Homo sapiens: one gene and its partners. The protein of the gene in region 1 purifies or fractionates together with the protein of each later gene. This does not show direct contact. Each region holds a gene or a part of one and is shown on either strand. Other genes may lie near its edges.

Region 1 (3,500 bases):
TGGGACCCATGCCATGTTCATTTCACTTCTTCCCATATTTTTCGTGTTTCTTTTGGTAAAATTATAATGGCTTTCATTTTGTACTTAATATCACACACGTAAACCATCCATCATTTGAGCTTTATTGTAGCTTATCAGTGATAAAAACAGGCAGTAACTGCCATTGTTTGTTTGTTTTCCTAGTAAGGCCTGAAAACAGACATTCTTTGTTAAGAAGGTGTACAATGTAACATATTTACTAGTATTACATGGATTATATATTTCTTAAAGGGAAAAAATTTGAGAGTATCATGGACTACCACCAGCATTGTTATTACAGTAGTTGCTCAGATTTGGTTAAGGAAGCCCAATCAATGTATAGTGAAAGTATTATTATATCTCTGCTAAGATTCAGATATTGTTTCAAAAATCTCAGCTCCAATAATTCCACACACCTAAAAACAAGTGTTTATACTCATCTAAGCATGAAATTGTCCCAAGTAAGTGAGGATATTTCAGTAATGTGAAAGATACTTTCATGGAAGGTATCTGTTTTATACCAGTGGGTGGGGTGGTAGAATTGGGAGTATTTCTACAGTTATTCTTAGATGATTACTGAAATGCCCCATCTCATTTCTATTTAGGAAAGGAAAAATCAGTTTCATACTACTGTTGTCACCTGTCAGAAATGTTCACTTTATTTTGAGTTAAATGTTGCTTTAGAAGTTTAATCTTGAATTCCTGGTGACCACATGTTTATATCTGGAAAACTTGTGGAGAGTTATCATCTGCCCTTTCCCCCACTTTTTTTTTGGTTAGAGCTTCTGTTTAGATGTGTAAAGACAAATATTCTTAAATGATAATTTTACTATTTAGGAGGGAGTTTTTGTTGAGGATATATTTGAAGATTGGCTTTTTCATATTGTCTTTCATTCTTTGGCCTTGGCAAAGTGTACAGTAGATTTTCATGATCATTGCATACTTTTTGTCATTGAAATATATCTTTTATTTTTTAAATGCATTCATTTTACAGTTGTGACTTTATCATTGACTTTAAGAGGTAGAAACAAAAATGAAAATTAAAGTGAAAAAAACATACAGAATGCCTACAAATCAATCAAGACAAATAACCTAATTTAAAAATGGGGAAAAGATGTGAATAGGTACTTCACAAGACCCCTTCCAAAGGGCTAATAAAAATATTAAAACACAACCTCAGTACACTAGCAAAGCAGGGGGCTGGTGAGGATATCGAGGAACTATAACTCTCATAAATTGCTGATAAGAATGTAAATTGGTTCAACACTTTTGCAAAGCTGTTTGGCAGTATCTACTTTGGCAGAAACATGTCTACCCTACAATTTAGCAATTCTACTCTAGATATATGTGCAAAAGAAATGAGTCAATACATCCAGCAGAAGACTTATATAAGGATTTCACGGCAGTTTCATTCAGAGTAGTTAAAAACTGCAAAAAATCCAAATGCCCATCAAAGGAGAACAGATCGATAAATTGTGTTATATTTATACAATGAATGTTAAATAGCTTAAAAAAGAACAGACTACCAATACACTAATACACACAACAATATAAATGAATCTCAGAAATTATGTTGAACAAAAGAAGCCAGATACATACAATAAACTACATACTCCATGATTTAAGAACAGACATACGAATCTATGGTGATAGTATCAAAATGAGGGTTATACCTCTGATGGAGAAACTACTGACTAAGAATTGACTGAGAAGGGGCCCGAAGGAATTTTCTGAAATGATAGAACCATATGTTGATCTGGATGGTGGTTACATGGATACATACACACGTAAAAACTCACCAAGCTATATACTTAGGATCTTAAGAGATATATACCTTACTGTATACAAGTTATAACTCAGTAAAAAAGAAAAAAGCCAAATTGCTCTGCATAAAGATGCATCTTACAAATTTTTTGTGAATCAAAGTCAAATGCAAGGAATCTAGTTTGTTCACCACTGCATACTTACTTAATGCTTAATACAGTGCCAGGTACATGGCAGACAGTACATACGTTTTCTTCACTTTTGTTTTTTTGGCTAGAATAGTGTAGCTTTTAATTCTACTTTTCCTATTTTTAACTGTAGTAAACTATACATAACATAAAATTGACTATCTTGACCATTGTTAAGTATACAGTTCAGTGGCATTAAGTACATTCATACTGTTCTGCAACCTTCGCCACCATTCATCATCCATCTCCATAGCTCTTTTCATGTTGTAAAACTGAAACTCTACACCCATTAATCAATAACTCCTCATCCTCAATCTTCCCCCAGTCCCTGATAACCATCACTCACTTTTTCTGTCTCTATGATTTTGACTACTCTAAGTACTTCATACAAGTAGAACCATAACAGTATTTGTCCTCTTGTGACTGGCTTATTTAGCTAATGTCCTGAAGATTCATCCATGTTGTAGCTTACGTCAAATTTCAAGACTGAGTAATATTCAGTCCATAAGTATTTTTGAATTAATAAATATACCATAACAGTAGTTTATACAAATTCCAAAAATCAGCCTCTTCTTTTCAAATATACCAGGAACTCCAAAAACTAAATATCTAAGACACAGGAAAGCTGACAGGAGGAATGAAATAATTATATTCAAGAATATGGCTCACCTTGTTTGGGTCAAGATTCCCCAAAACTGAACTGGCCTGGGGGCAAACTTCAGACAGTGAGCAACCAATCTTCATGATATCCTTATTTCTATTGATACTCTAGAAAGATTAGATATAGTATAAGATACAGTAAAATATTATTTTACAGTGTTACACGCTTGAGGGTTCTAAGCATGATAAACTTAAAAGATTTTAGGCCATTAGAAATTAAATCAACTTCTTATGCCTGTATTTTTTCATAATTTAAATGAGTTATTTATAAGAAATGAGACTAGGCCATAGAAAAAGTTTACTTCCCAATGTGTTCAAATTAGGTAGAATTCAAACAAGATACCAAATATAATTAAATCATATGGAAAGGATTCCTTAAAGATTGATTTGATTGCAGAGCTCAAACTGGGAAATAAAAGATGATCCTGGGACATTTGATGGTGCCAGAAAGTAAAGAAATGCTAAAAAAAAAAAAAAAAAAAAAAAAAAAAGCAGGTTGCGATGGCTCACACCTGTAATCCCATCACTTTGGAGGGCCGAGGTGGGAGGATCATTTTTGAGCCCAGGAGTTTGAGACTAGCTTGGCAATGTGGTGAAATCCTGTCTCTACAAAAATAATACAAAAGATTAGCCGGGCATGGTAGTGTGCACCTATAGTTCCAACTACACAGGAAGATGAGGTGGGAGGATTGCTTGAGCCCAGAAGTTCGAGACTGCAATGAGCCATGAGCACACTACTGCACTCTAGCCTTGGTGACGGAGACCCTGTCTTGAAAAAAAAAAAAAAAAAAGTGCTCAAAAAAAGAATAGGAGACGTTTAAGGACAAGTACCAATCTGTATTCTTTGGTGAACTTTGTCCCAATGGCCAA
Region 2 (3,500 bases), on another chromosome or scaffold:
GAAGGTAGAATAGTGAAAGTGTACTGGCTTATGAGGTATCTAAACATACCACTAAGTTTCTGGCAGACAGATCAAAGCAACAAAATACATACAGTAGTTGAGTAACAAATCTCTCATATGTTTAGTATATGACATAGTTCACATTTCAAATAAGTGGAAAAAGAATGCAAAACAGATACCCAAATCACTGTGATAGAAAATTAAAGTATCCATACGGAAAATAAGTTAGATTTTGCCTCATGTCATACCTACAAATAAATTCCAGATAGATTAGTATCTCAATGATAAATGCACAACATAAGGAAATACAGGAACCTAAGTAATCCCAGGATCATGAAGGCCTTGCAACATATTAAGAAAACATTAATACCTAAAATACATAATTATAATTTAATTAGAAAAAGACATCCTAGTTAAAACAGAAACAAAAGCAAAAACAAAAAAGCTAATTCACAGAAGAGAAGCCTGAATGACCAATACATATGAAAAGATGCTCAAAGAATGATAATATCTAGTGCTACTGAGAGTATGGGAAAACCAGCCCATCACAGCCTATTGGTGTAAATCATTGTTTTGGTACAATTAAGTATATAAGGATATTTAATTTTTACACACACAGTCTTCCAACAGTTTGTAAAATCAACATAATGGGAACAACTCCTATGTCGTCAATACAGCAATGGTTAAATCAATGTAGGGTTTATGTACTCCCAAGAAGGGATATGTATAAATGACAACCCATTAAAGAGCAGAAAATTTTATATTTGTATCTTATCCTTTTGAAATGTCTTTCTGCGTATTTCATAATGACTTAAATGACTTAAAAGTCATAAATGACTTAAAAATAGGTAAACACACAACACACTGGCAGGAAGTACGTGCTCAAATTATTTTTTACTGAGGGAATATACAACCAAAAAATTTTATAGATCACTGTTACAAAACATTGTATATCTACAAAATTAATGATTCAATTATTAAAAATATAAATGTTCCTATATGCATTGTTATAAAAAGATAATGAACAAGGCTAAAGAAAAATATTTCATCTAAAAATAATTATAAATAATAGTTTATGGTAGTACACAGAGAAGAAAACACTGACAGACTGTGCAGACTGCTGTTGTCTTTCAGAGTCGGGATCATAGGACATGGTACCTTTCTGTTTTATGTACTTTTGCAACTAACTTATTAATTATATGGTCAGAAGAAAAATTCCTTCAAGAGACTTCAAAGTCCTTTAACTTCTTGGAGAGCCATCTAAAAGGATGCTCAGTAGTTTAATTGTTAATAATGAAAAATTAGAAATCACATAAATTTCTACCAAGAGGATTATAATAATGTTATATACAACAGTAATTTATATCATATAAATTAAGTCATTCTTAAAAGTGGAGTTTTGGCCGGGCGCGGTGGCTCACGCCTATAATTCCAGCACTTTGGGAGGCCGAGGCGGGCGGATCACAAGATCAGGAGATCGAGATCATCCTGGCTAACACGGTGAAACCCTGTCTCTACTAAAAGATAGAAAAAATTAGCCAGGCGTGGTGGCGAGCACCTGTAGTCCCAGCTACTCGGGAGGCTGAGGCAGGAGAATGGCGTGAACTCGGGAGGCGGAGCTTGCAGTGAGCCAAGATCCTGCCACTGCACTCCAGCCTGGGCGACAGAGCAAGACTCCGTTTCAAAAAAAAAAAAAGTAGAGTTTTAGGCCAGGCACGGTGGCTCACACCTGTAATCCCAGCACTTTGGGAGGCCGAGGCAGGTGGATCACCTGAGATCAGGAGTTCGAGACCAGCCTGGCCAACATGATGAAACCCCCATCTCTACTAAAAATACAAAGAAATTAGCTGGCGTGGCGGCGGGCACCTATAATTCTAGCTACTCAGGAGGCTGAGGCAGAAGAATCGCTTGAACCCAAGAGGTGGAGGTTGCAGTGAGCCGATATCGCGCCACTGCACTCCAGCCTGGGCAACAAGAGTGAAACTCCTTCTCGGAAAAAAAAAAAAAAGTCGAGTTTCGAATAACATAGTTAAAAACATGAGATAAAAATTATAATACATATATGCATCTTAGTATGATCCTGAATTTGTGAAGATAAAAAAAGAAAAAACAACTGGAGAAATATGTACATCAAAATGGTAACAACAGTTATATCTAAATGGTGGCATTAAAGGTAATTTTAAAATTCTCTGTAAGATTAAAAATTTTTAAACTTTTTCTTAAGATTAATTTATATACTATAAATTTCACCTTTCATCTGTTTTAACTGCATATTAAATGAATTTTAATATGCCTGCGAGTCCGACCTCTGGGGGATAGGAGACTGAATAGCTAATTTCAGTCACAGCTGACACCTCAATAAAACCTGGTTACCAAGGCTTGGTGGGCTTCCCTAGATGGCAAGACTTAGCATGTATTGCCACATATCACATCAGTACTGAAGAATTAAATGCACCCCCTCTCCCCCTGTGGGACTCCCTGGGAAGGGGACACCTAGAATTTTGTGTCTGGTTTATCCTACACTTCATTCTATATGTCTTTGTTGACTTTAACCTATATCCCATTGCTGTAATAAACTATGACTGTAACAAGCATTTTTGAGTCTTATGAGTCTTGGCCCAATCATCTAACCTGAGGATGGTCTTGGGGTCCCCCAATACAACATTATGCACTGAAATAAGACTCAATAAAATAAGAAGTCTCAGCTGGAGTGGCAGCTCACGCCTATAATCCTAGCACTAGGCTGAGGGCAGGCGGATTGCTTGAGCCCAGGAGTTCAAGACTAGCCTAGGCAGTATCGCAAAACCCCGTGTCTATACAAAACTACAAAAATTCGCTGGGCGTGGTGGTGCACACCTGTGGTCCCAGCTACTTAGGAGGCTGAGGTGGGAGGATCAAGAACCTGAGAGGTCGAGGGATGGGGGCAGTGAGCTATGATCAAGCCACTGCACTTCAGTCTAGGTGAAAGAGACCCTGTCTCCAAAAAGAAAAAAAAAGTCTGAATACATACAGAAGAATCTTTATGATGAGATTTATATCATGCCAATCTCAGCATATTTCAACATAAGAAAAAAATGGAAAATACATTCTTTCAGGATATTGCTAAATGAACAAATTATCACGGCTCTACCATATTCAAGACTACTAAAATGTCAGTCAAACTTACCAACGGGTACGAATGGTGCCTCTTTAGCTTTTCGAATGAGTTTTGATCCCTGATCTTCCTCATATGAAGGAAGGGAAACACCTGTGTCTGTTGACATAGTGATTGCTTGAAGAATCTCCCTGAGAAAGAATTTCTATGAGGTTCTGTAATTAAAAGCATCTGAACATTATTAAATATCTGGATGTATTTAAAATATTCCTAACTTCCATGAGAATCTTAGTATATGTTATCCATAATCCTAAAGTTAAAAAATATTTTTAGAAATTAACTGTATTTTTAATGTACAGTCACTCTCAAGGGAGAGTTGTATACACTTATTCCCCCTATTATTTTG
Region 3 (3,500 bases), on another chromosome or scaffold:
TTTCAACTATCCTCAACCTGCTGTTGACTCTTAGATCCTTATTTCTAGACCTGACCTCTCCTGAAAACTTATTCCAAATGTCTGCTAGACAAAATACTCTGCAGGCATCACACATACAACAAATAAAAACTTTGAACTCATTGTCTTTCTCTTCTTACCCCAAATTTTTCAACCTCTTTTATTTCCCAAAGTTTTAGAGGTGCCACCAGGTACCAGTTACCTGAGCCAAAATATAGGGGCCATCTTAGATTTTTTTCCTCTCCAACCAATCACCAAGATGGTCTGATTTTATCCAAGCCCCTCATCATCCTCTTCCCGTCTTCCTCCTCCCTATTACCACTACTTGAGTTCAGATCCACTTCATGACTGGTCTCTCTGCTTCTGATCTGTTTATCTTAAATCTATCTTCCAAAATGCTACCAGTGATCTGTCTTAAGCCCAGGGCTGACCATTCCTCTTTCCTTCAATGGCTCCTCATCAACTAGATCATGCTCTTTACATGATGTAACAGGTCTCCATGACCTAGACCCTACCTACTTTTCCAGCCTCATCTCTTATCATTTTCCACTTTATCTTCTGGTAAGAATGACCTCTACTGTACTTGTTCTTTCAATCCTCTACCCAGACATCATCTCTTTCAGGTAACTTAAATTCAGAACTTAACCAAATATAGTAGAATTATCTGTTTCCTAACTAAACTATGTATTATAGGATAGCTAGAGAGTGTTTTATTTGGCTTTGCACACCCAGTGTCCAGCACACTGTGAAGAACATCTACTGTTTTGGATATGGATATGACCAGCACCCATATCTCCTTTCTTTTGGTGGCAGGTTCTAGATTCTCCTTAGTTCATGTGACCTGGGTGCAGCTGCTTCCATCTTTTGGCTCCAAAAGTTGGCAAACCATTCAGATTTAGCTACTGAGAATACTAATACCCCTGTCCACAGAGTAAGTGGTGCATAGATTAAAAAGTAACCCAAGCCAGATCAATGGACATCAGTCTCAGGACATCTGGTAAAATTATCAGCAAAAAGAAGTGTTCTTTCAGTAAGAGTTACCGAAATGGAAAAAAGTCACCCACCCTGAAGCTGCCAATGGTCATTTTACCACCATATGGAAAAGCTTCCCTAAGAATGAAGCCAAAACAAAAAGGAAGCAAGCCGAAAGACACAGATAGGGATAGAGATAGGTTCCTGAATAGAGCCATGCCTGAAGCCAGTTCTGCTCCTTGATTTTCTATTTTCTTGAGCTACTGAATTCCCCTCTTTTAAATTAGTTTCTGTTATTTTTTAAGTTTCTTAACTTGAGTTTCTGTCATTTGCAAGTGAAAGAGTCCTGGTTTCTCAGAAACTGTTTATTACCACCTAGTTTATTAACTTTACATACACAGAATGTGTTCAAAGCTGTCATGAGGTAATAGGAATCCAGAGAAGACTTTGAGAGTCATTCTAACTGAGAAAACAGGTTTTATTACACATACAGTACTGGAGTTAGGCCTTGAAGGATCAGCAAGTGGGGCTACACCCAAGGCTACCCGAATGAGCTAAAGCAGACCTGTGTTCCCAGAATTTCACTGTAGGGTTCTTTCCCTATATCCTCCCACAAAAACATTCAGGAACAATCTAGCTCTGATCTATACCTTCCCATTACTTAAGCATTAACCTCTCAAATTCAAAACACCAAACAGCATGAACTATATAAAGGCTTGGAAACAGAAAAATGCAAAGTGTGTAGGCAAACAGTGAGATATCTAGCAAGACCAAAATATAGGATACTGGCATTTTACTCATTCATTTATTGCAAATATATACTAACACTGTGCCAGTGCTGGGGATTCAATGGTGAATAATACAAACTAGGAGTCTGCTCTTCTCTCTCCTAATAAGGCAATTAGCAAGCAAACAAACAAAAACATACATAAAGAAAATAAAATGGAGTAACGGTGGGTATGGGTAGAAGGTGGCTTGAGTTTGGGTGGTCAGGAAGGGTCTCTGAAAAGTTATGTTTCAGCTGAAATCTGAAGGAATTGGCCATACAAATAGTTAGGCAAAGAGAGTTGTAAGCACAGGGAAATCAGCTTGGTACACCTGAGAAACAGAATAAAGGCCAGTAAGGAAGAATATAGAGGATGAGGAGTGTGACAGAAAATTAGGTTGGAGTAGTGAGGTTTACAGAAGAGAACACTGAGAGATGAGGCTGGAAAGAATCATAACAGTTGACTAATAATACAAACAATATGTTAAATTCTTTGCAATATCTTTGAAGAGACAAATTGAGTAAAAAAATGAAGGATTAATTTATCAGAGATTAAAAAAGAAAAATGGAGAGTGATAGACCACATAAAAGAAAAAACGGATACCATAAATTTAATATACCCAAAGGAGATTTTTTTTTTTTTTTTTTGAGATGGAGTCTCACTCTGTCGCCCAAGCTGGAGTGCAGTGGCATGATCTCAGCTCACTGCAACCTCTGCCACACTGGTTCAAGCTATTCTCCTGCCTCAGCCTCCCGAGTAGCTGGGATTACAGGCACCTGCCACTGCGCCTGACTAATTTTTGTAGTTTTAATACAGACGGAGTTTCACCATCTTGGCCAGGTTGGTCTTGAACTCCTGACTTCATGATCTACCCACCTTGGCCTCCCAAAGTGCTGGGATTACAGGCGTGAGCCACCGCGCCTGGCCAGGAGATATTTTAGTAGGCATAGAGCATACCCAAAGTGACCTCTCTTGTAATAAATATATTAAGTGAAATCATCATGAACTATTGTGCCAACTCAAGGTAATTTATTATCCTTTCCCAAAATAATTAATGTCATCCACGACCACATTTCAGTCTGGAACTTCCCACTTGTTGAGATCTGCAGATCTCAATAGGTACCTTTGAACTTGGCTTCTCCAAAAGCTTATTTATTTCCAACAGAAAAATAATGAGGCCCACAGAAGAAAATGAATTTGCCCCAGGCCACACCACATGTGAGTATTAGAACAAGAATCAGAATCACAGAATCATATTCCCGGACTCCTAATTCAGTGCTCTTTCCCCTACATCACAGCCTGCCATATAAATCTTTTGAGGGCCAATGGTTAAGGCCTTGATCCTTAACCAATCTACATCTTAAGTCTCAATGCCTAAAATTTAAACAATCTGAAGATTGCTTTCAGAGAATGGCGAGAACTGCCAGACAGATAAGGAGTTACTGGCCTTACAAAAATACGTATTAATGTGATCTCTCATTAAGCATGTAAACTATGTCTTTTTCATGATTATTTCCCTAGCACCTAGCAAATTACTAAGCATAATAAAGGTTTATTGAACACATATGTATATTTATTGAACAGCTACATGTAGAGGACATCGGGCTGTCTTCTGTGGAGCCATCAACAGTGAGCATTTATTTACTATGAGCCAGGCCCTTTGTAAGAGCTATGTGTGTGAACACATTTAAACCTCACAGGAACTCTACATTATTACAACTCACCTCACAGATAGAAAAAAAT

What was found. Proteins that work in one complex are often made in the same cells at the same time.
Region 2: the proteins of STK31 (region 1) and HIGD1A purify together in Homo sapiens (affinity purification with mass spectrometry; one large-scale study listed by BioGRID and IntAct). This does not show direct contact.
Region 3: the proteins of STK31 (region 1) and FAM114A2 purify together in Homo sapiens (affinity purification with mass spectrometry; one large-scale study listed by BioGRID and IntAct). This does not show direct contact.

Annotation. Positions count from the first base shown.
Region 1 is NC_000007.14:23,716,719-23,720,218, reverse strand, and holds part of STK31 (serine/threonine-protein kinase 31), read right to left. Parts: intron 2,739-3,500; coding exon 2,640-2,738; intron 1-2,639.
Region 2 is NC_000003.12:42,790,991-42,794,490, forward strand, and holds part of HIGD1A (HIG1 domain family member 1A, mitochondrial), read right to left. Parts: intron 3,310-3,500; exon of another isoform or gene 3,286-3,309; coding exon of another isoform or gene 3,264-3,285; coding exon 3,167-3,263; intron 1-3,166. UniProt on the Homo sapiens protein: Proposed subunit of cytochrome c oxidase (COX, complex IV), which is the terminal component of the mitochondrial respiratory chain that catalyzes the reduction of oxygen to water. May play a role in the assembly of respiratory supercomplexes.
Region 3 is NC_000005.10:154,004,411-154,007,910, forward strand, and holds part of FAM114A2 (protein FAM114A2), read right to left. Parts: intron 1-3,500.